5 separate regions of the Homo sapiens genome follow, and regions 2, 3, 4 and 5 are each linked to region 1. The links come from fine-mapping of genetic effects on gene expression. A gene starts in region 1. Each other region holds a variant in brackets. All regions are shown on one strand. Distances are between the middles of the regions.

Region 1 (6,268 bases):
AACAAGGCGAGACTCCATCTCAAATTTAAAAAAAAAAAATGCAAATGTTGATTGGGGTTAAAATATTGCAATTTTTTTCTGACTAAAGTACAATCATAAAATGAACAAACAGCTATCAGATCCTTTCCAGTTTTAATTTATCGGACTTTGAGGGAAGGGAAGGAATTTCTTAGATCCTTACTTATTATAGGCTAGTCTTGCTTATTCTCAAATGGAGCTAGGGAGGAATGGGTAAAAACTAAGAAGACATTTCGTCCGATTTAGGAAATGTGTGTTTTGTTTTAGTTGAGGTATGTCTTATTTTGTAAGATACTGTATATATTTTTAAGTAATTATTTGAGAGCATTGTTACAGATATATCACTTTTTAGGGAAAGATTTTTTTTGCCCCAGTTTATAGCTATTTGGTTTAAAAATTTCATTTAATTTTCAGAATTTTTGCCAGACTCCTCTGCCCCAATAAAAGGCTCTAGATTAGGTGTATCTTAGGTGCTCCCCAAACCCCTGGCCACCCCATGCATACCTTTTCATTATTCACTGTTTAATTCTCTGTCTCCGAGTCTAGATCCTAAGTCTCCATGAGAGCAGGGACTATTCAATTTTGTCTACTGCGTATTTCCCAGTTCCTAGCTCAGTGTCTGGTGCTCAAAAAATGTTCTTCGATAAATAGATGATAATAATATTGAAATATTGTGTATATTTCTTTGATTTGTTAGTAACTACAAATAGTTTATTGTGTATATGTCAATTAGCAGAAGAAAAAGAGCAGTTGTGCTCTTTTTTATAAGCATTTTTAGGAGTTACTGTGCACCTTATTACAAGAAAAGTGGCCAGGAATGGTGGCTTACACCTGTAATCCCAGCACTTTGGGAGGCCAAGAAAGGCAGATCCCTTGTGACCAGGAGTTTGACAACCAGCCTGGGCAACATGGAGAAACCCCATCTCTACAAAACAAAACAAAACAAAACAAAACAAACAAAAAAATTAGCCAGGTGTGGTGGTGTGGGCCTGTAATTCCAGCTACTCGGGAGGTGGGAGAATCACCTGAGCCGGGGAAATCAAGATTACAGTGAGCCATGATTGTGCTACTCACTGCACTCTAGCCTAGGCAACAGAGTGAGACTCTGTCTCTAAAATAAAATAAATAAAATAAAATAAAAGCTTAGGCTATAAAAAACAAAATTTCTATTAACATGGTCTTACTAAATACATATTGTAGGCCGGGCGTGGTGGCTCATGCCTGTAATCCCAGCACTTTGGGAGGCTGAGGCGAGTGGATCACTTGAGGTCAGGTGTTCGAGACCAGCCTGGCCAACATGGTAAAACCCTGTCTCTACTAAAAATGCAAAAATTAGCCGGGCGTGGTGGCAGACACCTGTAATCCCAACTATTGCAGAGGCTGAGGCAGGAGAATCACTTGAACCTGGGAGGTGGAGGTTGCAGTGAGCTGAGATTGTGCCACTGCACTCCAGCCTGGGCGACAAGAGCAAAACTCCGTCTCAAAAAAATAAAATAAAATAAATAAATAAATAAAATACATATTGTGTTTTATGTTTAATAAAGGGAATACAGGGAAGCTTTCCCTTTTCCCTTGGAAGGTTCACTGAAAAATCAACTGTCAAATGGCAGACTAATAGGAAAAAAGACATACAAAATTTATTTTAATGTGCATAACACAGGGAGATTTCAGGAGAATGATTACCCAATGACTCAATGGGGTAGAGACGTTTATATACTCTTCTTTATGGGGGAAAGGGAGATTGGGGAAATGTGGCAACTTAAGGTATAGTAAAGGACTTTTAGGGGAAAATGGGGAACATACAATGGCCTGGGAAAAAGTGTGTTGAGCCCATACAGCAGACAATAGTTTGTGACAAAAGTCTGTCCAAGAGTGTTGACAGACTTCAGTCTTTCTTCCTCCAATATGAGTTAAGTAAATGAAAAATCAGGTAAGGCAAATATGTTCCTCTTTGGCAGGTCTAGTTTCTAGGCAGATAAGGGAAATTCAGAGAACGACATCATTTGGTGCTTTGGGAGAGACAAAGAATTGAGAGGCAGGAGGGGTAATGGGGAAGGTAAGAGACACCTTGAAGCTGCTTCCTCAGTTCAGCGCGGCAAAGCACCATATTTTGGGGTATCGATTTCTGAGTCCCAACAATTTTTACATCACGTTCCAGACACATTTTATGACTTTTCTTCACTGCATACTTCTTTAAAACTCATCTTACTCTATTTTTCTAAAGGTATTTGCATTAAATGTGCAAAATACTAATGCTCTAAAGAGGAATATTTTGAAATATTAAGAATTATTTATATTTCAATGTAAAAAATGTGATTTTTTTTCTAGAAATAAAATTTCAAATTCAAATAGTTGCTTTGGGGTTTTTATAGAAGATGCATATATATATACAGATATATATATGTTCATTTCTATTAAAATCAATGTGCTAATGTTCATATGTGTTAATATTAATAAAGGTCCTAGGATTAAATTTATTCTGAAATAGACTCCTAGGATTGTGAAAGTTTGAGGTTAGTCTGGCAAAAGACACATTTAGGGGAATATCTTTCTTTAAAAAAAATTTTGTTTTTTTGCTGTCTCTTGATCTCCCGCCTCACACATTCCACTTTATTGACATTATAGAAAAATTAATTCATTTCAACAGCACTTTTACTTGCATTGCTTTTTTTTTTTTTTTTTTTTTTTTTAGACGGAGTCTTGCTCTGTCGCCAGGCTGGAGTGCAATGGCACAATCTCAGCTCACTGCAACCTCCGACTCCCGGGTTCAAGCAATTCTCCTGCCTCAGCCTTGCGAATAGCTGGGATTGGTGGCACGCACAACCACGCCCAGCTAATTTTTGTATTTTTAGTACAGACGGAGTTTCACCATGTTGGCCAGGATGGTCTCGACTCCTGACCTCGTGATGCGCCCGCCTCAGCCTCCCAAAGTGCTGGGATTACAGGCGTGAGCCACCGCGCATGGCCACTTGCACTGCTTTTTAGCAGCGAGCTCTCAGGTCAATCAACTGCTTCCTTAGGTTTACAAACTGTGGGTGTGTATTTATAAACACAGTTGTTTTGTATATCCTTTGTAGAGCACGTGGTGAAAGTGACACAGGAATAAATGCAAACCTTTTTTTCCCCTTCTTTTTTCAAAGACATAAATCCCAGGAACACTCACAACCGCAGAAGGGGATTTGATGGACATACAAAGAAACTAAATTTTGTACCGCCGCAGAAGTGAAGCATGGATAAGCTCAAAGGTATTTAGGCAGTGTTTTATTTCAAGATTTGTTATGGGGACCTCCGCCACGCCCTGGTCCGCCTTCACCAGGCCGGGCAACACTGCCCAGTCCCTGAGACCCGGCCGCCCACTAGGGAGCCGCGGGGGCGAGGCCGTGGGGGTGGCCTCGGGGAGGAGGTCCCGAGAACCACACTTCCCAGAGTGCCGTGCGCAGCCCCGCCCAGCCCGCCCCGCCCCCAGAGGCCGCGGCTCGCGGGGGCTGAGGCGAGAGGACGCCAAGCGCCCGCCGGGGCTCCGCGGGGCCGCGCAGGAGAGCGCGCGTCCGCCGGGTGCTCGCGCGGGGTTGGTGAGGTTCCGCTGAGGGCGGCCGGGGCTCTGGGAGCGTGGTAACGTGGCTGCAACCTTAGCGACATCAGGAAGAACAGGGTCGAGGATCGAGGTAACGGGACGCTCGTCTCCCCTCAGTCCCCTCGTCTCCCCTCAGTCCCCTCTTCCTTTGTGCGGTGCCGTCCGCTCGCGCCGAGCCCTCCCTCACCCCAGCCCCCAAGTCGCAACACCGTCCCGTCTTGGGTCTCCGGTGTGCGGAGGAAATTCGAGCCCTCGTGCACCAACCGAAACTCCACAGCTGAGAGGGCTTGGGGCCCGGACAGCAGGAGATCCAGCCCCTGAGCAACCTTCCACGGCTTTTGTCGCCCCCATTGGCGGGAGGAGCAGGGTTATGCTCCCGGCTCCCGTAGGGGAGCTCCAGCCTCTGGCTCTGTCAGCCTCCCCGGCAGCTCCTTGACTCCTTCCTCCCAGTCTTTCGAAGAGGGGCCCAGGCAGGTGCTTCGCGGGGTCCAGGAAGAGGGCAGGCGCGGTGCGGCTGGCGCGGGTTCGGGGCCCCGGGAGGGCGGCCGGACGCCCCCTGGAGCCGCGGCCTGCGGGGGCGGGGCGAGTGGGCCACCTCCGGGCCACGCCGCGCGGGGACGAGGCGAGGAAGGCACTGCCTGTCCCCACTCGGGGGGCTTGCTGGCCGCCCTGGAGGTGCCTTCCCGGGAGCGGCGGTGTAGACCTTGTGGAGAGTGCCTCCTGATGTGGAACCAGGAACCGCAGCCTCTTTCTAGACGCTCAGCCGCCCGGTGGAGTTGTTACCGCCACGATGACAGCTCTTTACGCCTTCCACTCCGTGCTGGGTTCAGTTGGCTTGCTGTTTTCTTCAGAGAGAGCGATTTGGCTACATAGCTTGAATTTTCTACGTGTCTCGTGCTTTACTGGACTTGCACTGTTTTTCCCTCTTGGCAGTGTTTAATCGGGTGACTTTTCATAGAAAACGTTCAGTATTTTCATCTGTGTTAATGGCATAACTTTCTTCTTGACTCTGCCCTAAGCTAATGTTACCAGTTTAGAGGGATACTTTGGGAAAAGGTCCTTAGAACCTGGGTTGACATAAGTATTTTATCTGCTGGTTGCACGTTTTTTCCTTTGCATTGTTTTTCTCCTATACAAGATGGTAATTGTTGGACTCTTGGTGTTCTTTATTCTCTCTCTAGAAGGAAATCCTCTTCGCGCATCTTTCTCGTGTTCTGGCCCTGCGGTACTCTTGGGTACGCAGAGGACTGCTGCTAACAGTGCTGGCGCCTGGAACGCTGCTTGGAGATGGCGGTGGCATTAAGCTGCTGCTTTTCCTCAGACTTCCTCCTGGCACCCTTCTTAATTTGTCAAACTGACCCAGTTCAAACTTCAAACTTTTAGTCACTTTATTTATTTCGTCACTTTTTAAAAAAATTGCTTTCAAGATACCAAAATTGCGTAAGCCTAAATATAAAAAGAGGTGTCTCAGGGGCCGGGTGCAGTGGCTCACGCCTGTAATCCCAGCACTTTGGGAGATTGAGGCGGGGGGATCACTTGAGGTCAGGATTTTCGAGACCAGTCTGGCCAACATGGTGAAACCCCATCTCTACTAAAAATAACAAAAATTAGCTGAGCGTGGTGGCACATGCCTGTAGTCTCAGCTACTCGAGAGGCTAAGACAGGAGAATGGCTTGAACCCGGGAGGCGGAGGTTGCAGTGAACCGAGATCATGCCACTGCGCTCCAGCCTGGGCGACAGAGTGAGACTCCATCTCAAAAAAAGAAAAAAAAAGTCTAAGGATACTCTATTCAACTACATATGAGCACTTAGCTTCATCATTTTAATTTTTAAAGCTGCCAATTCTTTTAGCATTTGATAAGATTACTGATAATTGGTTAAGATGATATATTCTGTAATAATTGCACATTTTTTGACAAGAAACTCAGTTCACATTCAGTGAGGGTTATTTTTTAAAAACAGTATTTCTTCATTCATTAAGAAGAAAGTTAGGGCCGGGCGCGGTGGCTCACGCCTGTAATCCCAACACTTTGGGAGGCCGAGGCGGGCGGATCAAGAGGTCAGGAGATCAAGACCATCCTGGCCAACATGGTGAAACCCCATCTCTACTAAAAATACAAAAAAATTAGCTGGGCATGGTGGCGCATGCCTGTAGTCCCAGAGACACGAGAATCACTTGAACCTGGGAGGTGGAAGTGAGCTGAGATCACGCAGCTGCACTCCAGCCTGGCAATAGAACGAGACTCCATCTAAAAAAAAAAAAAAAGTTGGGTAAATTTTGATCCCACCTGCTATTTTGAAAAATGAATTTTCTTTTTTAGAGCAGTTGTAAGTTCACAACAAAACTGAGTGGAAGGTATAGAGATTTCCCATGTATCGCCTACCCCTACAGAGCCAAAATCTCTCATCAGAGTGGTACGTATATTACAATTGATGAACCTACATTGACATGTTATCACATCCACAGTTAGGATTCATTCTTGGTGTTAAACATTCTGTGGGTTTGGACAAATAACCCTTTTGTTTTTATCAAGAACTTTTGAGAGTTGTAGAGAACTGAAATGGATATTGTCATTTTAAAAAGATTAAAGAGACTATTGCAGACATCTTAAACATTAATTTCAGATAGTTTTTGTGTTTTATAAATTGAATGTTTAAATTTTTGGTTACTTATAT
Region 2 (5,000 bases), 99 kb after region 1:
TTTTTCTAAATAGAAAAGAATCCACAAAACATGCATATTTACATCAAATAATACAGAGATGATTTTTTATGAGGTTTCCTCCAACTTCTTTCGAAAGAACCATCCACTTAAACCCACTAGTTTATTGTTTGTATAAAATTCAAAATGGACTACTTAAAGCTTACTTTATTTTCTACTGAAAAATAAGTACAATGTTGAAAGGAAACCGTCTACAAAATCCCGTGTATTTTACAGAAAGGACTACAAAGATATATAACAACAATAGAAACAATTGCTCTGGGATTCTAGCTAACATTTTTTCCCCTCCACTGATTCAATTTTTTTAATACTGTCTTTATATCTCTCCATATACAGAAACATGTTTTTATTTTTCAAAAAACCCTGAAAAGACTGTAAATATTTTAGTGGGAGTAAGGAAAAGGGAATCTGTCACTATTGAATTTAAGTATCTCTAACTTGGTAGCTTGAAAGTAGGGTTAAAAAAAAGAAAAAAGAATTTAAGTACCTTCAAAGCATCCATTTATACCAACTAAAGTGCTAAATACATTTAATCACTAAAACAACACAGAATTCTTCCACGATGAAAGTCTTTCTTGCATTCTTGTGCCTCACTTGTTAGCACATACACCAGCTTTCTAAGGAGTCTGACATGCAGACTCCCTGACGGCCTCCTTCCCATGGCTCTGGGTTCAGGAGGAAGCCCACATACTGTCTAGCAGGTGGCAGGTAAGTGATGGGTGAGACCCTTCAATTAATTCTCATGTGCATTTAGAACGAAACTTCCTAAGTGTCAGGTCACCAAGTTAGAAATCTGGGACACCAGTCAATTTAGGACAATCCCTAACAAACCTGAAATCCTCTCTTAAAAAATAAAAAACTTCAAATTAACTGTGGGAGGTCCCAGTTTTCCTGTGTCTTCCTCTCCTCCCGAGTTTAAGAAAAATGAATAATTTAAGATGTGTAGGCTCCAAATCTGCCCAGACACCAATAAGCAGCCTGGCTCCACACAAAATAATAGAAAACAGAAAAAAAACAAAATTCCCTTCTCCTGGCATCCTACAAATCAGTGTGCCTGCATCTGCACATCCATCCAGCCCTTCACAGGCTCCTTTGGAAAAGACACTTTTATTCATTTATGCAGTGTCTTGTTTCAAAACGGCTTCCTTCAGAGTGGCTTACAAAGATACCTGTTTTTAATCTTGCGGCATGTGCACAAGTGAGAATGTTAAGAAGGGAAAATACAGGAGGAAGAAATAAATTAAGGCCAAGTGAAGGCTCGTACCCTCGGGAGGCTATCAGTTCTCACTGTCCTGCATGCTACCATCTGGCAGCTGCAGCCACAGCCACATCTAGGGAGCACCTGAACTTGAATGGTGTTAGTCTGAAATGACTTAGTAGAAAAAAGAGAATGTAATATTTTTATATTGATTTTTTTACTGATGTATAACAGACTTACATATTTTGGGAGTTGATTAAAGTAATCTTTTAGGTATACTGGATTAGATATAATTATTAAAATGTTAGGCTGGGCGCGGTGGCTCATGCCTGTAATCCCAGCACTTTGGGAGGCCAAGGTGGATGGATGACTTGAGGTCAGGAGTTCAAGACCAGTCTGGCCAACATTGTGAAACTCCATCTCTACTAAAAACATAAAAATTAGTCGAGTGTGGTGGTGCGTGCCTGTAGTCCCAGCTACTCAGGAAGCTGAGGCCAAGAATCACTAGAACCCAGGAGGTGGAGGGTGCAGTGAGCTGAGATTGCGCCACTGCACTCCAGCCTGGGCATCAGAATGAGACTGTCTCAAAAAGAATTTTTTTTTTTTTTTTTTTTTTTTTACTAATTTTCCATTTCCTCCCCTTTTATAGTTTTTAATGTGGTATTAGAAAAGTTTAAATTACATATGTGGCTTATATTCTATTTCTACTTGACAGCACAGTTCTTCACAGTTTGCTATAGACAATCTGAAAATTGGGTTCTGAACTACTAATCAGATTAGCCAATGCAAAGAAGGAATTATAAATATACTGCTTAGATAAGATAAAAACATATCAGCTACTCAGAAATGTAATAATTCATTAGAGAAGTTGGAAAAATGTACCTTGAAGGACTGAAAAGGGAGACAATATGAAATAAGCAACCGAGTTCTAAACCCACAAATGAAATGCAATAGGAAATTCTACACAGCTGTTTCTCCTGCAAGCATGGACCCATAGCAGATCCTGGAGCACAATTTAGAGTGGCCACATGCCAACAAGAAGCTTGCTGGGGCATTGCGACAGGGCTCTGCGCAGCATACAAACCTCCGTTCAACAACTCAGAGTGCTAACACTTGAGAGACAGTGAATAATGGTGGAGAGAAAAACAATCAATTGGAAATGATGGGGTTAAAATAGAACCTGACTTCTGGTACTGGTAACTCTCTTGTCAATCAAGCACCTAATTATGCCCAGGTTACCCTGTTACCAAACGGCCCAGTGAACTGTAGTGAGTTTTAGATGAAAGGCAGTATAGCCGGCCCAAGAAACATTACAAGACAGAAACTTTGTCTTTGAAAAGTCAAAATTTGCTAAAATATCCAGATCGATACTAAATTGAACATTAGGTACTAAAGTATACTTTTTTAAATGAAAGGTATTTCCAGGCAGTTAATGACACATTAAGG[C/T]CCCCAAGGCAAAACTAAGCATTAACAAGGCTACTTCTTAAAGAAAACACCAAAGTCTAGCAGTGAAATGAGAGCTGATTTTTGTTCATATAGTTTCATTTTGCTTAGGACATGCTGGTTGTGACTATAAGCCAATCTGGCAGACCTTATAGACCACACATGAAGATACAAGTCAGGGCAAATCAATCCTCACAGACTGGTTATAGCTCTGGCTGTGCCAATCGGTGACTCAAGTAGACAGCCAACAAGAGAGAATGCAGTGAGCACTAACTTCAGCGCCAGCATCTAACAACTGCATTGGCACTTACTGGAATAATATGCTTTATATTGATATTTAGCAACCTAGAAGCAGATAATATTCTATAAGCTGGTAGAAAGGAAGCCATCAAACTAAATAAAGCAAAAGTCCCCTTCTGCTGATTTTGCTTAACTGTTGAGATCAAGCCAGCGGGCATGAAGTTAGTGGTTTTTTGTACACTATGCACTTAGAACTTTGTCATCTTCTGTCTGGAACAGCCACAGAGGCTTCCCCAGAGTAGGCACTCGGTATTTGTCAGTTGGCACAGAAATTCAGCTTAACAGCTCAGGGACACAGCTGAGGGCACTGGATGCAGGACTGCATTACAACTTTAAGTGGATGGATGTAGGAAAGGGTCATTAACATGGGAGCCATGCAATATTGGGTGAGCAGAAATGCAGACCAAAATTCCAAGAACAAGACCTGCCGTAAAACAGGAGGCATGCTGTTCTTTAGATTTTTCTGGGTCAAGAAGCCATTCAGATGAGGTGATACTCTCTCTTCAGGAGGAAAAAGGAGTCCCTTTGCCCTGTGGTTTATCCCCAGGTCATCCCCACTTCAGGGAATCTGGCTTAAGGTCTGGGTTTCAGAAATTCTTTTTCTACTAGGTTAGTTGTCTCAAGGATGGTGCCTCACCTTCCACAAAGGGAGGCTGCCGGCTGACGAATTGGTCCTCACAGACTTGTTTGCTTTTCTTAACCTGTTGGGTCAGGCAGCCCTGATCATCTCTGCCAGATGCTGCTCCACCCACAGTGGAGCACAGGGCAAGAGTGAAGGCCATAAAAGGAAGACATGGGCTTGCAAGGGGCCAAGTCAGTTTCCGTCAGGGAAAGCCTCTCGGCAGGCTGCGCTGCCGTGCAGCCAGCTCACCAAGCAGACACTTGTAGGAAGCAGGGAAAAGGTGGCTTTTTCCAGAACTGACACTTATTTGGTGCCATAGAGATTCTAGCAGATGGAAAGATGTAGTGAACCAGGAGTTTGGCTGTGAAGGAAGATGGGAGCATCTGCAGGAGTAGCTAAAGTGGAGTAGGAATGTGTGTGGGCACTGAGTGGCAGTGGTGGGGGCCGTGGAGGAACCAAGCCGGGGCTGACGCGGTAACCACCTTATTCACCGGCAGCGCCAGAGCCAGTACGCCGACCTTGTGCGCCTCTTGAGAATCCTCCCAACAGACACTTGTACGGAGAAAACACATGTGAAAAAGAGGAAAGCTCACGGGACTGGGAGGAGGCAGCATGCCTGAGCTGCAGATCTATTTTTACTCAGCAGTCAAGCCATGTTAGTGCCTTTTTGGATCTCATCTATAAAAGGTGGCAGCTGATCAAGGGACCACTAAGGTTCTTTCCGCACCTAAATTCTAAGGCTCTATTATCCTCTTCCAAAAGGAAGCAAATGAGCTTGGTAGCACATGCAACACAGAAAACTGGAGAAGCAGTCTTTGGGGAAATTCAGGGACTTCCCTGTGATTCGCCTCGGAAGGAGATTCAATATGAAAAAGACACAAGGGACACCAATTCAAGTTTGTACCAAGATCAGGCCCAGGGACTTGCTGTGCAGACAGGTTATGTTCACTGGGGTGAGTGCTACAGAAAAGGGAAATTCATCCACTTGTTTTTCTCTTTGGTGAGGGAACGCATGATTCAGAACAGCCTAAGCTATCACATGCATATGGTTGTGGTGCTCTCCTCAGGGTAACTAACAGGCACGAAGAAATTTAGATGTAAGTGGCCTTAGTCAATCAGAAGGGATGAGCTTTCATTTTGAACGATAACTAGGGGTGCTGATCTGGAGCAATAACCCAAGAAAAGACAGTCAGATCTTGGATGGAAGGGAAGGACTGAACCAATCACTCCCTGCAATAAAACTGCATTTTCCTACTACACATCATAACTTCCCTTCCTCACTCTTCAAAACGCATAAATGATAGCACTGGAATGTCTTTCCCAAAAAAGTTGAAGTGTCTTGGTCAGCAAAGCGATTATTTAGAAAAAGTAAAAAAGATTTGAATGAATGCACCTCCTTATTCAGTTATTCATCTAAAT
Region 3 (6,120 bases), 590 kb after region 1:
TGTTTTTTAAGTACCCAATACTGAAACAACAACAACAACAGCAGCAGCAGCAGCAGCTTACCTTTTCTGAATAATTCTTGGAGACTTTCAGCACTTTGATTTAATACAGCCCATATTTCTTCCTCCTGAAGTGGTCCACCCCGAACCTCCAGGGCCTCAGCTAGTGACACGTGCATATTACCTGGGAAACAAAGGTAACAGATGGTCTATGCATCAGCAACTTAACTATACTTGCAGTAGTAAAAGCTCTACATCAGTGATGACAGACTATAAGCCCCCTGTCTACCTAATTTCTCAATATGGCTACCAATCTAAATGTTATCTTAAACTCACAGAAGGTAAAGGAATTGGAGGGAAAAACCCTCAAAACAACCACTTGCCCTAGCCCAACACGGTCAACTTCAGAGACAGAACTGGAGAATGGGGGTGGTGACTGCTTTACGGAAAAAGGAAGAGACCCCAGGGTACTAGGAGGCACCAAAATACAGATCATAAACCAAAGCAGTCAGACTGAACTGAAGGCCTTTCAGATTTCTGTTCCAGGTTTCATCCTATCCATCCCAGATATAAAAGTAGAGAGAAATAGAGAGGAGAACCTACAGCCATGGTAGGGGAAGTTGGGAATAAGATGGAACACATTTCTTTCATTCTTTAGTTGATTTCTATTATCTCCAATATATATACTATAACTGTATATTTTGCACTAAATGCAATTAAGTATTTCCAGACCCAGCTTTGTTGGCAACTCACCATTTTCCCTGGGAGAGTCACTTTTCCTTTAAACCTCTGTTTCCCTATTGTAACACAGGAATGATAGTAACAATAAAAATGTCATTTTGGGTGGCTATGACAAGGGAAGTGGCTATGCTTGTGAACATGCTTTGATATATGATTCTACAGAAGGTGAATTAATAAAAGATCAGATAAGTGTCTGTGCTGAAATTTTTGTCAGGTCAATTTTTCCAATGGCGTTCAGTTAAGTGATGATATACTGATAAAACTTAAGATTTTCTATGGGGCTTAATAAGCCTATTTTCATGTTAAAAGAGGAAAATGTAACTAGTTAAAATCCTTCTATATAAATTTTCCTAAATTGACACAGCTTGAAAATTGTTCTTTAGAGTGATTCATAAGATTTCTACCCAGACAAAACCAATTTAAGCATAACATATATAGTATATTTCTACTGTAAGGGAGAAGCAGATTTGGAAAAGAAGCCAAATAAGGAGTTTAAAAGTTAACCTATAAAAACATCTGTTTTAGATAAAAGTTGACTTTGTTTACTCAACTAACAAGACAAGCTACTATTTTCTTTTAATTTACATTTATGGTACTTAATCCTGACTGAAAAAAGCAATTCCAACTATAAATGAGGCCAGTCTTGTCCTTTCACTTTCCTTTTTAAATGTTTACTAAAACATTTTATGCTTAAAGTCTGCCTCCAGGGTGTCTACTTATATACACAATGTGAAAGTTAAAAGGAAACTATAAGATACTGCTTTAAAAAAGCCAAAAGCGTTTTTACTTAGGTTGTACAAGAAGTGCGATTATTTATTTAGATCCCCTGCCTGCACCAAAGTCTCTAGGTTCTCATTGACTTTATTATATAATAGCATATTTATTCAAGAGAAAAAAGTAGAAGCTTCATTCCTTTCTAAAGATATGTGAGTTATCTTCTACATGAAAAATATTGATAAATTGGAAGTTTCAACAGAGGGATCAGATAATATTAGCAATCAGATACCAACATGACTTGTGTGAAGGACTACCCTGTAGCAAATTTCCAAAGTAATATGTCTGAGAACTGGTTAGATAGCTCTAACGCATATACTCAGGGTATAAAGAGTAGAGCAAAGATAGAACAAGAATTTCTTTGAAGAGAGTTGTGTGCTGATTTTCATGTCTCCTCCAAAGTGGGAGGGATGTGGAAAGGTGCCTTCCTTTCACCTCAAGCCAGTGAAAGAAGCTTTAATGGGACCCCTGGGAGTCCTTGATATATGTTCTCTGGAGTTAGTGGAGGGCACATCAGGCAGTGCCTAATACACACTTTAGGAATCTAAAGGTGTTGCCTATCACTCTGAGGCAGCAACATGAGGTAGACAGGAGAGGGAGGGCACACAAGAGTGAGGAGACATACTGTATCAGAAGCCAGCTATACTTCCACTGCTCAGGGTAAGAGAGGGGCAAGGAAGCACGGCCACACAGAGGGCCAGCTTGGACCTATATGAAATCCTACCCAGAGGATTAAAATGTCCTAAAATTTAGATAGTGGCAATGGTTGCACAAAAATTCTAAAAATAACTAAAGGTACACTTTATAAGGGTGAAGGCTGAGCATAGTGGCTTAAGCCTGTAATCCCAGCAATTTGGGAGGCTAAGGTAGGAGGATCGCTTCAGGCCAGAAGTTCAAAACCAGCCTGGACAACATGGGGAGACCCTCATCTCTACAAAAAATAAAATCAGCCGGGCATGGTGGTGCCTACTGTAGTCCTACCTATTAAGGAGGCTGAAAAGGGAGGCTCGCTTGAGCCCAGGAGTCTGAGGTTACAGTGAGCTATGATCATGCTTCTGTACTCCAGCCTGGTTGACAGAGTGAGACCGTTTCTAAAAAACTAAAAAGAATTTTTTTAAAGGGTAAGTTTTATTGTATGTGAAGTATATCTCGAAAAGCTGTTTAAAAAATTCTACCCAGAGTTCCACCTGAAGTACCCAGACCACCACCAAGAAAAAGGAAGAAGGGAGGAGGCGCAGGGGGAGGAGGGGAAAAGGAGAGAAGGGAAAGAA[G/A]AGGAGAAAGAGAAAGAAGAAGGATTCAAATTAGAATTATTTCTACTGTGGAATGGCCTGAAAGAAAACTAGGCTGAGGGCTAGAGGGGTTAGGGGTTACTGGCTAGTTGGAGGGAAAAATTCTGGAGTGTCACATGTAGTGTAGTTCCAGTGAAGGATTGTGAAGAACCCACAAAAGCACACCGAAGAAAAAGGGCCAGCCTTAAACACATATCAAGTTCAAAAACAGTAAAGCAATTTCACAACAGGAGTGTGGGAAAAACAACAACAAAAACTGTTTGCCTTGCTTTCTCTCTTCCTTCCCCTGGTTTAGATCCTGATGGGGTCAGATATAGCAACTTGCCAGTGGGTGAGGAGATAAGCAACAAAAAGAGAAGCTAATCACACTGTCTTCCATCTATAGATAATCTTAGCTAGGGAAGGGAAAAGTTTTAGCTCTGAATGGACATTGAAAGGTTGATTAATATACTGACTAGGTACTTTTAATTATGGAGTTTAAGTGACTGTAGTCATTAGTATTACCAAAGGGCAAGGAGGGAATTATGAATCTGGGTTTTTATATAGAGGCAGAACTTCCTCTGGTGATATAAGGAAGGATGGAAGGACAAAAGGAAGGAGAACAAAATTAGGTTGCTTATGATGATATGTTATGTATCCCATTGTAAAACCAGTATGTTGGCTTTATACATACATACACACATATATTTATGTGTATATATAGAGAGCACAAGAGACAGACTAGGTTTTAAATCTTAAGATACTGTTTTTCCTTACTTTTTAAAAATAAATTGGGTTTTAAAATATAATTATTCCCTATAAATAAAAAAATGAAAAGGTTAAAAGTAACTTCTCACACAATAGAATTTTTTCAGCAATTAATTTTTCTAGCTACAAAGATTGCTAATTATACCTCTGTTGCTTGATTGAATCGGGTACGAATTATATCAATACCGTGTTAATTTTTATTTAAACTTTTTTTGTATATTCAATATGGGATCTTTATGAACATTTCTGGTTAGAACTTCTTAGAACTCCAAAACATAGAAAGGAACATTTGTTTTTCAAAGTTATCATCAAGCTATCAGAATAGATTTAATATTTTTAATTTACAGCTTTGCTAGGCAAGAACTTAAAGATTTTTTTAAAACTGCCTCATTCTAATTACCCAATGTCAGAATTTAATGTAGTATTACAGCAGCTTTCTAGAAAACAAACAACAAAGCTATCAGCTTATAAATTGCCTACTAGCACCATCTTTCTCTCTCACATGTTTATTTTACTGTTATAGCACTTCAGATCATTAGCTCCGAAGATAACAAGGGAATGAAAGAAATGCAGAAGCTGAAGAGGAATGCAAAAAAGAAAAAAGAAAATGGAGGGAAAAAAGCTTGAAGTCAACCAACAGATGAGGACAGAATTAGTTACAAAAATTTTTTAAAGCCTATTGCTTCAATTGTTTCCTTTAGACACAGTACTAGGTAACTTGGGAGTACAGATATATAACAGACGTTATCACATTAACCTATCACAAAGGTTAAATTTTACAATAAACATAGCCATATTATTTACTTTTATTCTCTTGAAGGTTATATGCTGCATGATAACTAGAAAGTTTTTGGAAAAAAATTTCAAATAAGAAAAATTAATTCTATCACATAACCAGAATCATTATTATGTTTTTGGTTAACACAGGTATTACTGACATGACCTTAAAACTGCTCACAGAGACAAAGCCACAAGGAGATTCTAACAGATGTCATTTTAATCCTGAAGGATTGTGGCACGCACAGCTAGTACATACCAGTGATTGAGAACAGAATGAACAGTAAACAGATTAACTAAATCCAATCAAGTGATAAAATAACCTGTCTGGAGACAGATTAATTAGGAATGTTTAACTTGAATCTAAAGAAATAGGGCTAATAGAAACATGCTGTTTCAAGAACAAAGCAGCTATAAAATGGAGCTCTGTGTATGCCACTAGTTTGAGCAAGGATTCACTCACCATCCAGGCTAAGGACATCTTTGGTCATTAAAAAACCACAGTGAGTTGAGAAGGCAACCCCAAAATTGTAAGCATCTTTTCATCCAGGAAGATTCAGAATTAAGTATAGAAAAGTTTGAGACACAGCCCATATATTAGTATTTTTTAAAATTAAAGAATCTGTACATATATAGTATCTTAGCTAGGAGAAATAGGTGAGTTAGAATAACAGATTCGCATGGTGATTCCAATTTAAATAGTGTAATGAGAAAATGGTTGAGGCTTGTATTTTAAAACATACAAAATGCCACTGGAACATACAAGAGACCCTTAAAGGCTTGCTATACATAAGTCTTACTATATAAGTTTTCATTCATTAGAAGACTTATTTGGGTACTTGGGAAGGTTTTTTCTGTCAGTCAGATACAAGAAATACTTTAAAAATTGGCTTTTAATTGTATGAATGCAGTTTAAAGTGTTTATGGGATGTTAACTGACTAAATTTGAAAATGAGATTATACACTCAAAGGGTCCCTTGAAATTTTCTGCATGTATAAATAGAAAAAATAATTAAATTGACCTTAAAAGCTTAAGAACTATGGCCAGGTGCAGTGACTTATGCCTGTAATCCCAGCACTTTGGGAGGCCAAGGTGAGAGGATCACTTGAGTCCAGGGGTTCAAGACTGCCTGGGCAATACAGCGATACCTCGTCTCTATATATAATAATGCTTTTTAAAAAAATTAGCTGAACATGATGGTGCGTGCCTGTAGTCCCAGCTACCTGAGAGGTTGAGATGGGAGGATTGCTTGAGCCTGGGAGGTGGAGACTGCAATGCTATAATTGCACCACTCCACTCCAGCCTGGGCAACAGAGCAAGACCCCATTAAAAAAAAAGTAAGACATAGGTTTTAGAATTTTTAATGTAATAAGAATGTTCATTTAAAAATAATTTTCAATAAGCTTTTCTGCACACAATAAGGTCTTGAAGGCCATTAAAAAGTTAGGAGAAAATTATGGTGACTTCAGTTAGCCAATGTTTTTGTAGATATGAAAACAAATGCATGACCCAGATTAGAAAAACAAAATTGATAAACTGGAATTCATCAAAATTAAACATCTTTGCTATTTGAAAAGAAAGAACTGTTAAAAAATGAACCACAGTCCCACCAACAGTGTAAAAGTGTTCCTATTTCTCCACATCCTCTCCAGCACCTGTTGTTTCCTGACTTTTTAATGATTGCCATTCTAACTGGTGTGAGATGATATCTCATAGTGGTTTTGATTTGCATTTCTCTGATGGCCAGTGATGATGAGCATTTCTTCATGTGTTTTTTGGCTGCATAAATGTCTT
Region 4 (6,268 bases), 350 kb after region 1:
TCCTGTTTCTGGGCTTCCACAGCTGCTGCTTCTTGAAGTAAGCGTCAGCAGGATGTTTTGGGATTTTTACATTGCTGATTATCAATTTTGGTTGAGGTGGCAGTGACAGATTTCTGGCGTGTTCTTTGTAGAGGATCTTGGTTGAAGACCGGAGGTCCAGTCACAAGTAACAAGCCACTAGCCAGCAGCTTCAGGAAAACCACCCTTTTGCCTCTGTGGTGCTCAGTGAGGGTGATCAGAATGGTCCCAGGGGTGATGCTGGCTCACAGTTTTCTCATGTGCTGACTGAACGGTTTTTTTGCCGTGGCTCAACAGCTTTTGAGGCACATCTTCAGTAGGATAATATCTAGGCATTTTGCGATGTTTAACCACCTGGGTACCACCGTTCTTGTCACCACCAACTGGTTTTGTAATAGTTGCAAGAACTTCTTTTTCTTTTCAACCTTGGATTCAGCAGCTGAGTGCTTCCTCTTGTACATGGCCTTTCTGGAATACATGGCTGATTGGGAATACCTGCCAATTCCTCTGACAAAGACAGGATTTCAGCTGCAATGGGGCTTCTCCCTCTTGGGCTTTTTAGTCTTGAGGCTGCCCCTTTTTACCTTGCCACCAGCATCAGCCTTCTTGGCTTCTGGTTTCTTCTCTTTAGGATCTGGCTTCTCAACCTTTTCACCCACCATCTTGCAAGATGGGAAAGAGAACTCAGCATAGAAATTTAATAGTGAATTATTGGAATTTATGGAATCTTTTTGTTTTCAGTTGACAAAGTGTATTAAAATTTTATCCGTGAAAACATTTTATCTAATAACAAAGAAAAAACAGAAGAAAGAAAAAAATTAACAAGAATTTATTATGTACTTGAAACTCTTCTAGGCATTCTATTTATATTCTTTAGTCCTTACCACAACTGCAAGGGAGAAAGGGGCAAGAAAGAGGAGAGCAGAGTTCTAACATCAGGAGGAGAAGAAAGTCTGGGGCTGGGGCTGGGCCAGACTCTTGATGAGGCAGGACCTACGCCATCAGTTGACAGAGCAGCAAGAATGGAGGGAAAAAGGCTCCCCTTTGCTCATTGTCTGTATCTCAGGATCTTGCTTTCCCTAGGACAGAGGTTTCTCTAACCTCTTTTCACCTTTTTATTTTATTTAGAAATACGGTCTTGCTTTGTTGCTCAGGCTGGAGTGCAGTGGCACCATCATAGCTCACTGCAGCTTCAAATTCGTGGCCTCAACTGATCCTCCTGCTTTGGCCTCCCAAAGTGCTGAGATTACAGGCATGAGCCACTGTACATAATATACTCTTTTCATTGTAGTTCTAAGAACAGTTATCTTCTTTCCCATTCCAGTAAATGGCACCATTTTTATTCCATTGCTTAGGCCAGAAACCCAGGGGGTCATCTGTGATTCCTCCAGGTCCTTCATCTCCTCTTTGGTCCAATCTATTGGCAAGTATCATGGGCTCTACCTCCTGAATATATTCCACATGTATCAATTTCTCTCTTACCTCTATCATCCTCACCCTAGTCTCCATCATCTCTTGTTTGGAATATGGAGAAGGCCTCTTAACTGACCTCCTTGCTTTCATTTTTGACTTTCCTATAGTCTGTCCTCAACAGCCAAAGTGATCTTTTAAAAATGGCAGTCATGTTATTGCCAAAAAGATCCTGTCACTTCCCTGAGTAATGCCCTTCCCCACGGCCTACCAGGCCCTGTGCTTTTTTTTTTTTTTAATTAATTAATTAATTATTATTATACTTTAAGTTTTAGGGTACATGTGCACAATGTGCAGGTTAGTCACATATGCATACATGTGCCATGCTGGTGCGCTGCACCCACCAGCTTGTCATCTAGCATTAGGTATATCTCCCAATGCTATCCCTCCCCCCTCCCCCCACCCCACAACAGTCCCCAGAGTGTGATGTTCCCCTTCCTGTGTCCATGTGTTCTCATTGTTCAATTCCCACCTATGAGTGAGAATATGCAGTGTTTGGTTTTTTGTTCTTGTGATAGTTTACTGAGAATGATGATTTCCAATTTCATCCATGTCCCTACAAAGGACATGAACTCATCATTTTTTATGGCTGCATAGTATTCCATGGTGCATATGTGCCACATTTTCTTAATCCAGTCTATCATTGTTGGACATTTGGGTTGGTTCCAAGTCTTTGCTATTGTGAATAATGCCACAATAAACATACGTGTGCATGTGTCTTTATAGCAGCATGATTTATAGTCCTTTGGGTATATACCCAGTAATGGGATGGCTGGGTCAAATGGTATTTCTAGTTCTAGATCCCTGAGGAATCACCACACCGACTTTCACAATGGTTGAACTAGTTTACAGTCCCACCAACAGTGTAAAAGTGTTCCTATTTCTCCACATCCTCTCCAGCACCTGTTGTTTCCTGACTTTTTAATGATTGCCATTCTAACTGGTGTGAGATGGTATCTCATTGTGGTTTTGATTTGCATTTCTCTGATGGCCAGTGATGATGCACATTTTTTCATGTGCCTGTTGGCTGCATAAATGTCTTCTTTTGAGAAGTGTCTGTTCATGTCCTTTGCCCACTTTTTGATGGGGTTGTTTTTTTCTTGTAAATTTGAGTTCATTGTAGATTCTGGATATTAGCCCTTTGTCAGATGAGTAGGTTGTGAAAATTTTCTCCCATTTTGTAGGTTGCCTGTTCAGTCTGAGGGTACTTTCTTTTGCTGTGCAGAAGCTCTTTAGTTTAATTAGATCCCATTTGTCAATTTTGGCTTTTGTTGCCATTGCTTTTGGTGTTATAGACATGAAGTCCTTGCCCATGCCTATGTCCTGAATGGTAATGCCTAGGTTTTCTTCTAGGGTTTTTATGGTTTTAGGTCTAACGTTTAAGTCTTTAATCCATCTTGAATTGATTTTTGTATAAGGTGTAAGCAAGGGATCCAGTTTCAGCTTTCTACATATGGCTAGCCAGTTTTCCCAGCACCATTTATTAAATAGGGAATCCTTTCCCCATTGCTTGTTTTTGTCAGGTTTGTCAAAGATCAGATAGTTGTAGATATGCGGCATTATTTCTGAGGGCTCTGTTCTGTTCCATTGATCTATATTTCTGTTTTGGTACCAGTACCATGCTGTTTTGGTTACTGTAGCCTTGTAGTATAGTTTGAAGTCAGGTAGCGTGATGCCTCCAGCTTTGTTCTTTTGGCTTAGTATTGACTTGGCGATGCGGGCTCTTTTTGGGTTCCATATGAACTTTAAAGTAGTTTTTTCCAATTCTGTGAAGAAAGTCATTTGTAGCTGGATGGGAATTGCATTGAATCTGTAAATTACCTTGAGCAGTATGGCCATTTTCACGATATTGATTCTTCCTACCCATGAGCATGGAATGTTCTTCCATTTGTTTGTTTCCTCTTCTATTTCGTTGAGTAGTGGTTTGTAGTTCTCCTTGAAGAGGTCCTTCACATCCCTTGTAAGTTGGATTCCTATGTATTTTATTCTCTT[T/G]GAAGCAATTGTGAATGGGAGTTCACTCATGATTTGGCTCTCTGTTTGTCTGTTGTTGGTGTATAAGAATGCTTATGATTTTTGTACATTGATTTTGTATCCTGAGACTTTGCTGAAGTTGCTTATCAGCTTAAGGAGATTTTGGGCTGAGACAATGGGGTTTTCTAGATATACAATCATGTCGTCTGCAAACAGGGACAATTTGACTTCCTCTTTTCCTAACTGAATACCCTTTATTTCCTTCTCCTGCCTAATTGCCCTGGCCAGAACTTCCAACACTATGTTGAATAGGAGTGGTGAGAGAGGGCGTCCCTGTCTTGTGCCAGTTTTCAAAGGGAATGCTTCCAGTTTTGCCCATTCAGTATGATATTGGCTGTGGATTTGTCATAGATAGCTCTTATTATTTTGAGATATGTCCCATCAATACCTAATTTATTGAGAGTTTTTAGCATGAAGGGTTGTTGAATTTTGTCGAAGGCCTTTTCTGCATCTATTGGGATAATCATGTGGTTTTTGTGTTTGGGTCTGTTTATATGCTGGATTACATTTATTGATTTGCTTATATTGAACCAGCCTTGCATCCCAGGGATGAAGCCCACTTGATCATGGTGGATAAGCTTTTTGATGTGCTGCTGGATTCAGTTTGCCAGTATTTTATTGAGGATTTTTGCATTAATGTTCATCAAAGATATTTGTCTAAAATTCTCTTTTTTGGTTGTGTCTCTGCCCGGCTTTGGTATCAGGATGATGCTGGCCTCATAAAATGAGTTAGGGAGGATTCCCTCTTTTTCTGTTGATTGGAATAGTTTCAGAAGGAATGGTACCAGTTCCTCCTTGTACCTCTTGTAGAATTCGGCTGTGAATCCATCTGGTCCTGGACTCCTTTTGGTTGGTAAGCTATTGATGATTGCCACAATTTCAGATCCTGTTATTGGTCTATTCAGAGATTCAACTTCTTCCTGGTTTAGTCTTGGGAGAGTGTATGTGTCGAGGAATTTATCCATTTCTTCTAGATTTTCTAGTTTATTTGCATAGAGGTATTTGTAGTATTCTCTGATGGTAGTTTGTATTTCTGTGGGATCGGTGGTGATATCCCCTTTATCATTTTTTAGTGCGTCTATTTGATTCTTCTCTCTTTTTTTCTTTATTAGTCTTGCTAGCGGTCTATCAATTTTGTTGATCCTTTCAAAAAACCAGCTCCTGGATTCATTAATTTTTTGAAGGGTTTTTTGTCTCTATTTCCTTCAGTTCTGCTCTGATCTTAGTTATTTCTTGCCTTCTGCTAGCTTTTGAATGTGTTTGCTCTTGCTTTTCTAGTTCTTTTAATTGTGATGTTAGGGTGTCAATTTTGGATCTTTCCTGCTTTCTCTTGTGGGCATTTAGTGCTATAAATTTCCCTCTACACACTGCTTTGAATGCGTCCCAGAGATTCTGGTATGTTGTGTCTTTGTTCTCGTTGGTTTCAAAGAACATCTTTATTTCTGCCTTCATTTCATTATGTACCCAGTATTCATTCAGGAGCAGGTTGTTCAGTTTCCATGTAGTTGAGCGGTTTTGAGTGAGATTCTTAATCCTGAGTTCTAGTTTGATTGCACTGTGGTCTGAGAGATAGTTTGTTATAATTTCTGTTCTTTTACATTTGCTGAGGAGTGCTTTACTTCCAAGTATGTGGTCAATTTTGGAATAGGTGTGGTGTGGTGCTGAAAAAAATGTATATTCTGTTGATTTGGGGTGGAGAGTTCTGTAGATGTCTATTAGGTCCGCTTGGTGCAGAGCTGAGTTCAATTCCTGGGTATGCTTGTTGACTTTCTGTCTCGTTGATCTGTCTAAAGTTGACAGTGGGGTGTTAAAGTCTCCCATTATTAATGTGTGGGAGTCTAAGTCTCTTTGTAGGTCACTCAGGACTTGCTTTATGAATCTGGGTGCTCCTGTATTGGGTGCATATATATTTAGGATAGTTAGCTCTTCTTGTTGAATTGATCCCTTTACCATTATGTAATGGCCTTCTTTGTCTCTTTTGATCTTTGTTGGTTTAAAGTCTGTTTTATCAGAGACTAGGATTGCAACCCCTGCCTTTTTTTGTTTTCCATTTGCTTGGTAGATCTTCCTCCATCCTTTTATTTTAAGCCTATGTGTGTCTCTGCACGTGAGTTGGGTTTCCTGAATACAGCACACTGATGGGTCTTGACTCTTTATCCAATTTGCCAGTCTGTGTCTTTTAATTGGAGCATTTAGTCCATTTACATTTAAAGTTAATATTGTGATGTGTGAATTTGATCCTGTCATTACGATGTTAGCTGGTTATTTTGCTCGTTAGTTGATGCAGTTTCTTCCTAGTCTCGATGGTCTTTACATTTTGGCATGATTTTGCAGCAGCTGGTACCGGTTGTTCCTTTCCATGTTTAGTGCTTCCTTCAGGAGCTCTTTTAGGGCAGGCCTGGTGGTGACAAAATCTCTCAGCATTTGCTTGTCTGTAAAGTATTTTATTTCTCCTTCACTTATGAAGCTAAGTTTGGCTGGATATGAAATTCTGGGTTGAAAATTCTTTTCTTTAAGAATGTTGAATATTGGCCCCCACTCTCTTCTGGCTTGTAGAATTTCTGCCAAGAGATCTGCTGTTAGTCTGATGGGCTTCCCTTTGAGGGTAACCCGACCTTTCTCTCTGGCTGCCCTTAACATTTTTTCCTTCATTTCAACTTTGGTGAATCTGACAATTATGTGTCTTGGAGTTGCTCTTCTCGAGGAGTATCTTTGTGGTGTTCTCTGTATTTCCTGAATCTGAATGTTG
Region 5 (6,268 bases), 32 kb after region 1:
AGACCCACAAGTGGCCAACAAATACATGAAAAAATAACTCATCATCACCAGTCATTAGAAGAATGCAAACCAGAACCACAAAGAGATACCATCTCACATCAGTCAGAATGGCTTTTGTTAAAAAGTCAAAAAATAACAGATGTTGGCAAGGCTGTGGAGAGAAGGGAACACTTATACACTGTTGGTGGGAATGTAGATTAGTTCAGCCACTGTGGAGAGCAGTTTGGATACTTCTCAAAGAACTGAGACTTGAACTACCATTCAACCCAGCAATCCTCCTAGTGGGTATATACCCAGAGGAAAATAAATCATTCTATCAAAAAGACACATATACCCGCATGTTCATTGCAGTGCTATTCACAAATAGCAAAGATATGGAATCAGCCCAGGTGCCCATCAGTGGTGGATTGGATATGGAAAATGTGTTATATATACACTGTGGAATACTACACAACCATAGAAAAGAATGAAATCATGTTATTTGCAGCAACATACACGCAGCTGGAAACCATTATCCTAAGTGAACTAATAAAGAAGCAGAAAACCAAATACCACTTGTTCCCACTTGTAAGTGGGAACTAAATATTGAGTAAACATGGTCATGAAAATGGGAAAAATAGTGGTGGATACAATATGGGGGAAGGAGGGAAGGCGGTGGGGGTATGAATTGAAATAAACTGTTTATTTTATGTTGTGTATTATGCTCACTACCTGGGTTATAGATTCATTTATACACCAAACCTCAGCATGATGCAATATATCTATGCAACAGACCTACACATGCACCCCTAATTCTAAAGTAAAAGTTGAAAAAAGCAAAATATGTATATATATTTACAATAAAAGAAAAATATAAATTTAAAATAAAAATAAAACTGTAAGAATGAAGGAATAGTAAATTATTTTTTACTTTATAAGGGGAAAGGATTATAGGCTTATTTTATTATTTTGAGACAAGGTCTTGCTCTGTCACCCAGGCTGGAGTACAGTGATGCAGTCATGGGTCATGGCAACCTCCACCTCCTGGACCCAAACCCTACTCCACCCCCTGAGTAGCTGAGACTACAGGTGCACACCATCACACCCAGTTAATTTTTGCACTTTTTGTAGAGAGGGGGTTTGGCCATGTTGCCCAGGCTGGTCTTGAACTCCTGGACTCAAGCGATCTGTCTGCCTCAGCCTCCCAAACTGCTGGGATTACAGGCATGAGCCACCATGCCTGGCCTCTAGTAATTTAAAAAATATTTCCCTTTACATACAGCTTTTAAGAAGCACAATGTTATTTTATTTGTATATTATATATACACTCTTCACTATTCATTTTAAATACAAAGCAGATCTTGAGATATGTAGAAACCTAAGCCATCTTTAAAGTTGAGGATGTTCTTATTTATAAAGGTTTTCCTTTACATTCTGATTTCACTATTTTTGTAATTATAACTAAACTGTGATTTGTTATAACTCATGATCACAAATTGAGCATGTATCTGTACCTCATTAAAATTGTATTTAGACATTAAAAAGAAAAAGAAAAAGAGGCCACAGATAGCTGCTCTGTGCCTTCCACCATCTGAAGACACAAAGAAGAGTTGGCATCAGTGAACTTAGAGCAAGTCCTTACCAGACATGGATTTGCCAGTGCCTTGATCTTGAACTTTCTAGTCTCAAGAACTATGAGAAATAAATTATGTTGTTTATCAGCCACCCAGTGATAGTTTGTTATAGCAGCCTGAATAGACTAAACAGTAAGCTTTTTTTTTTTTTTTTAAAGACAGAGTCTCACTCTGTCACCCAGGCTGGAGTGCAATGGCACGATCTTGGCTCACTGCAACCTCTGCCTCCCGGGTTCAAGCGATTCTTCCACGTCAGCCCCCCGAGTAGCTGGGATTATAGGCACCCACCATCATGCTCAGCTAATTTTTGTATTTTTATAGAGATGGGGTTTCACCATGTTGGCCAGGCTGGTCTTGAACTCCTGACCTCAGGTGATCCGCCTACCTTGGCCTCCCAAAGTGCTGGGATTACAGGCATGAGCCACTGCCCCTGGCCAGTAGGTTATTTTTTATTTTGAAGTATCAAGATTATTATTACCTACAAAGTTATGCAACTGTATATCCACTATAATAGTATTTACAGTAATCAAAAAGTCATAATGTAAATGTCAAAACAACATTGAAATAGTAATGAATAATATACATGTAGAGTAAAAGATATTAAAGAAGATGCTTGCATAAGTTGCTAATGATGAATGTTAAAGTATATTAGAGTAGAAGGGCATTTTTCAACTGATATGGAAAATTTTCCTGTATATATAATGGTTAATAATACTAAGATAAAATTTTACTTTTTCTAAAATTCTTTTTTTTTTTTTTTTTTTTGAGATGGAGGCTCACTCTGTTGCCCAGGCTGGAGTGCAGTGGCACAATCTCAGCTCACTGCAACCTCTGCCTCCGAGGTTCAAGCGATTCTCCTGCCTCAGCCTCCCAAGTAGCTGGGACTACAGGCGCGTGCCACCATGCCCGGCTAATTTTTTTTTTTGTATTTTCAGTATAGACGGGGTTTCACCATGTTAGCCAGGATGGTCTCCATCTCCTGACCTCCTGATCCGCCCTCCTCGGTGGATCCCGCCCAAAGTGCTGGGATTACAGGCGTGAGCTGCGCCCGGCCTTTACTAAACTTTTTTAAGTGAAGTGGAGATAGTTTACAAAATAAATGTTAACTCTTTTTTTTTTCAATAGCAACAAAAGCACAGATTTATTGAAATGAAAGTACACTCCACAGAGTGGGAGCGGGCTCGAGCAAGTGGCACTCGAGCCATGATGAAGTCCTAACTAGTGGAGTTAGGAATGCTTTGTATGTTGATAGTCAAGTGCTTTACTAATCCAAAAGCCTTATTTTCATTGTATTTCCATTCATATTGGCTAATCTCTGGAAAATTACTCAAAGTTTTTATTAATAGTTGGTATTTCAAGCTTTTTAAACAAAAGTCTAAGGAATCATTTAATGAATGTTGATATTCTACATATTTTAATACTGAAGTGTGACATGATTTTTCCCTGAGTACTGTTAAGTTTAGCCTGAAGCTCCCACCTTATGTATTTTAAACTTGGCCTAAAAGTTTCTCTGTACACAGTAAACTGTAACCTAACTGGTTGTGTAAACAGACTGCAACCTACTCTTGTGCTAATCACTGAGGTTCAGCCAATTAAAGGCAACCAGTTGTTCAACCTGTGTTCAAGTAAGGCTGACCCTGAGCTGTAACTGACCCGTCTGTTTCTGTACCTCACTTCCGTTTTCTGTGTGTCACCTTCCTTTTTCTGTCCGTAAATAATTTTCGACTATGCACCAGCACCAGTGTCTTTGAACCTATTCTTGTTCCAGGACTGCCCAATTCTTGAATCCGTCTTTGCTCAGTTAAACTCCGTTAAATTTAATTGTCTAAGGTTTTTCTTTCGTAATACTATCTTGAATTAGTCACACGTTCACTGATCTAACAAAGAAAGAAT[G/A]TAAATTAGAAAATTAAGTAGTATCAGGGACATATAGTATTTATATAATTCTAAATACACGGTAATGTCTAATATTATGTAGCTTGTGTGTTTTTCATCCAATTTTAAACATCAGGTCTTTAGACTTTGATTCCTTTCATTTTCAAATTTCTAATGAAATGATTTTGGTAATTGGTAATTATTTTTTTGTACCAGAGAAAGAAAATGTACAAATAAACTTTCAGGAATGTAATTAACTATATAACATCAAAGGAGAATCAGTGCATTAAAAAGCCAAATTTTTGGCTGTTCCTATTTATACATGTGGCTTAAAGATCTTTATAAAATAAAGATGGATATTTATTCTAAAAGGGTACATAGGGGTGTATGTGTTAAATAGCCACATTTTAGTTTGTTTGAATCAAGACTCAAATGGAATTGTAAAGGGACAGAATCTTATTAAAAACAACATGAAAATGACTTGCCGGCCATTGATTTGTACAGCTTGGATGGCAAGTGTTAAAATAATGGTTATCTAGAAATTGTAGAACCCTATTTTATGATACTATTATGTAAGAGAGTGTTGGCAAGTTATTTAATGGAGCAGGTTTAAGTCATGTGAGACTTACAAATATTTGCATAGAAACTGAATCCCAGTGGTGGCATGTGGAAATAATTTTTTAAAGGATATGCTTAGGCTATTTAAAAGTTATTTAGTATCAGATTTCAGATCCCATTTTAGAGCTGACGTGAATTTGAAAACATGCCAAGCTTTATGTTATAGTCTACATTACAACTTTAGTCTCAATGGAATCTAAATACTGCCTTGTGAGTTCTGTGAAAAAATTTAATATAGCATAACAGACAGAAATGATTGTCTTGTACTTTCTGAAATAAGTGATACTGCTTCTTCCTCCACATTAGTGAAAAAAGACTGAGGAAGGGGCTTTTATAAGCAAAACCATTTATACATTTGAACACTCTAGGAGTTGTCATTTTAAAATTAGTTCTCAAATAATGAGATACAACTGTTTATTATATAATCAAAACACTACATGAAAACAGGAAAACTGTTAAAATAGTACTATAACTGTTACTTGTATTTGATTATTATAAACTCCTGGGAAAATGGGATAAATACTGTATTAAAAAGAAGATATCTTCCCACTCAGTACCAAAAACTTCCAGATGTAAGTAAAAATTTAAGTGTAAAACATAAAACCATAAAAGTAGTATAAAAAATACGTGAAGTAAATATAGAATATTAGAATGATTCCCATTTCTAGCAGGTACCTAAAACAATAAATAAAAAGACTTCATTTAATTACATAAAAATCCATAGGGTTTTTATATAAGAGAATAAAATTTGAAAGCAAACTAAAAGAGAAGTTTGAAATATATATGACAAATGCCTAATACTCTGATTATATGATGAGTACTTATAAATAAAAAATTTGTAGTTCATAGAAGAAATACAAATAGCTCAAAATTTATAAATGATTCAATCTTAAGAGCAAAAAAGAAAAAAAAAGATGAGATCTTTTTATTCATCAAATTGGCAACTATGGCCGGGCACAATGGCTCACACCTATAATCTTAGCACTTTTGGAGGCCGAGGCGGGAGGATTGCATGAGCTTAGGAGTTTGAGATCAACCTGGGCAGCATAGACTTTGTACAACAACAACAACAATAACAACACTCAAGATATGGTGCAAATACTGTAAGAAGCTCAGAAATGGACAGTTTGACATTATGTATTCACATATTCACATTGTATCCTTTGAAGCAGCATCTCTACTTACAATAATTTATCTGTTGGAATAATAGAGAATGTGAATAACGATTTAGTTACAAAGAAGTTCACTAGTGTGCTATTTGTAATAGCATACTGTTGGAAGCTATCTGATTTTTCAATAATTAAGGTGATGAGATTGCAGTGTTTTTTTTTTACTGCTTTTATGTGAGCTATATCATTTCAAGATAATGTAAATAGAAAATAAAAAAAAACCTCAGTTGAGCTCATAGTAAATACTACTAAATATTTACTCTCTGCTCCAGTTTTCTGATTGATAAATTGTGGATAATAATAGTACTTACTCATAGGGATGTTGGGACAACTGAGTTAGTATATGAAAAGCACTTAGAAGGCCAGGCTCTGTGGCTCATGCCTGTAATCCTAGCACTTTGGGAGGCCAAAGTGCGTGAATCACTTGAGCCCAGGAGTTTGAGACCAGCCTGGGCAGCATGGCAAAACCCTGTCCCTACTGAAAAATACAAAAATTAGCTGGGTGTGGTGGCACATGCCTGTAGTCCTAGCTGCTGGGGAGGCTAAGTTGGGGGATTGCTCGAGCCCAGCAGGTTGAGGCTGCAATGAGCCATGATCACGTCACTGCACTCCAGCCTGGGCAACAGGGTGAGACCCTATTTCAAAAAAAAAAAAAAAAGCACTTACAATAGTGGTTGGCATGTAATGAGTGCTAACTGATGTTTGCTGGTATTAATTCACAAAATGTCCCTGAAATATAACATAGAAAATCATGGTTTGTTGTGTGTATGTTACAGATACATATATAAAAGAGGCCGAGTGTGGTGGCTCACACTGGTAATCCCAGCACTTTGGGAGGCTGAGGCAGGTGAATCAGTTGAGGCCAGGAGTTCAAGACCAACCTGGCCAACGTGGTGAAACCCTGTCTCTACTGAAAAAACAAAACCCACAAAAATTAGCCAGGCGTGGTGGTGCACGCCTGTAATCCCAACTACTTGGTAGGCTGAGGCAGGAGAA

The links. PIP is the estimated chance that this variant, and not a neighbour inherited with it, causes the effect. A credible set is the group of variants that fine-mapping cannot tell apart.
Region 2: its variant is the best candidate, but not a certain one, in a credible set for the expression of KLHL8 in whole blood (TOPMed, PIP 0.72).
Region 3: its variant is the best candidate, but not a certain one, in a credible set for the expression of KLHL8 in whole blood (INTERVAL, PIP 0.78).
Region 4: its variant is the best candidate, but not a certain one, in a credible set for the expression of KLHL8 in whole blood (TOPMed, PIP 0.67).
Region 5: its variant is the best candidate, but not a certain one, in a credible set for the expression of KLHL8 in whole blood (INTERVAL, PIP 0.73).

The regions. Positions count from the first base shown.
Region 1 is chr4:87,217,833-87,224,100 of GRCh38, reverse strand. It overlaps KLHL8 (kelch like family member 8), which reads left to right and starts at 3,483. Exons shown (of 10, transcript NM_020803.5): 1 at 3,483-3,683. RefSeq lists silencers at 3,264-3,753, 4,094-4,363 and an enhancer at 3,869-4,481.
Region 2 is chr4:87,119,717-87,124,716 of GRCh38, reverse strand. The region is part of intron 12 of AFF1 (ALF transcription elongation factor 1); the gene reads right to left. Among named protein-coding and RNA genes, the nearest start is that of KLHL8, 98 kb to the left of the region's middle. RefSeq lists an enhancer at 4,011-4,586. The variant C/T (reference allele first, on the strand shown) is at 2,663.
Region 3 is chr4:86,629,313-86,635,432 of GRCh38, reverse strand. It overlaps PTPN13 (protein tyrosine phosphatase non-receptor type 13), which reads right to left. Exons shown (of 48, transcript NM_080683.3): 2 at 62-181. The coding sequence starts at 176. Among named protein-coding and RNA genes, the nearest start is that of PTPN13, 38 kb to the right of the region's middle. The variant G/A (reference allele first, on the strand shown) is at 2,784.
Region 4 is chr4:86,864,603-86,870,870 of GRCh38, reverse strand. It overlaps the pseudogene RPL6P13. Among named protein-coding and RNA genes, the nearest start is that of SLC10A6, 18 kb to the right of the region's middle. The variant T/G (reference allele first, on the strand shown) is at 3,481.
Region 5 is chr4:87,186,144-87,192,411 of GRCh38, reverse strand. All of the region lies in intron 2 of KLHL8 (kelch like family member 8), which reads left to right. Among named protein-coding and RNA genes, the nearest start is that of KLHL8, 31 kb to the left of the region's middle. The variant G/A (reference allele first, on the strand shown) is at 3,507.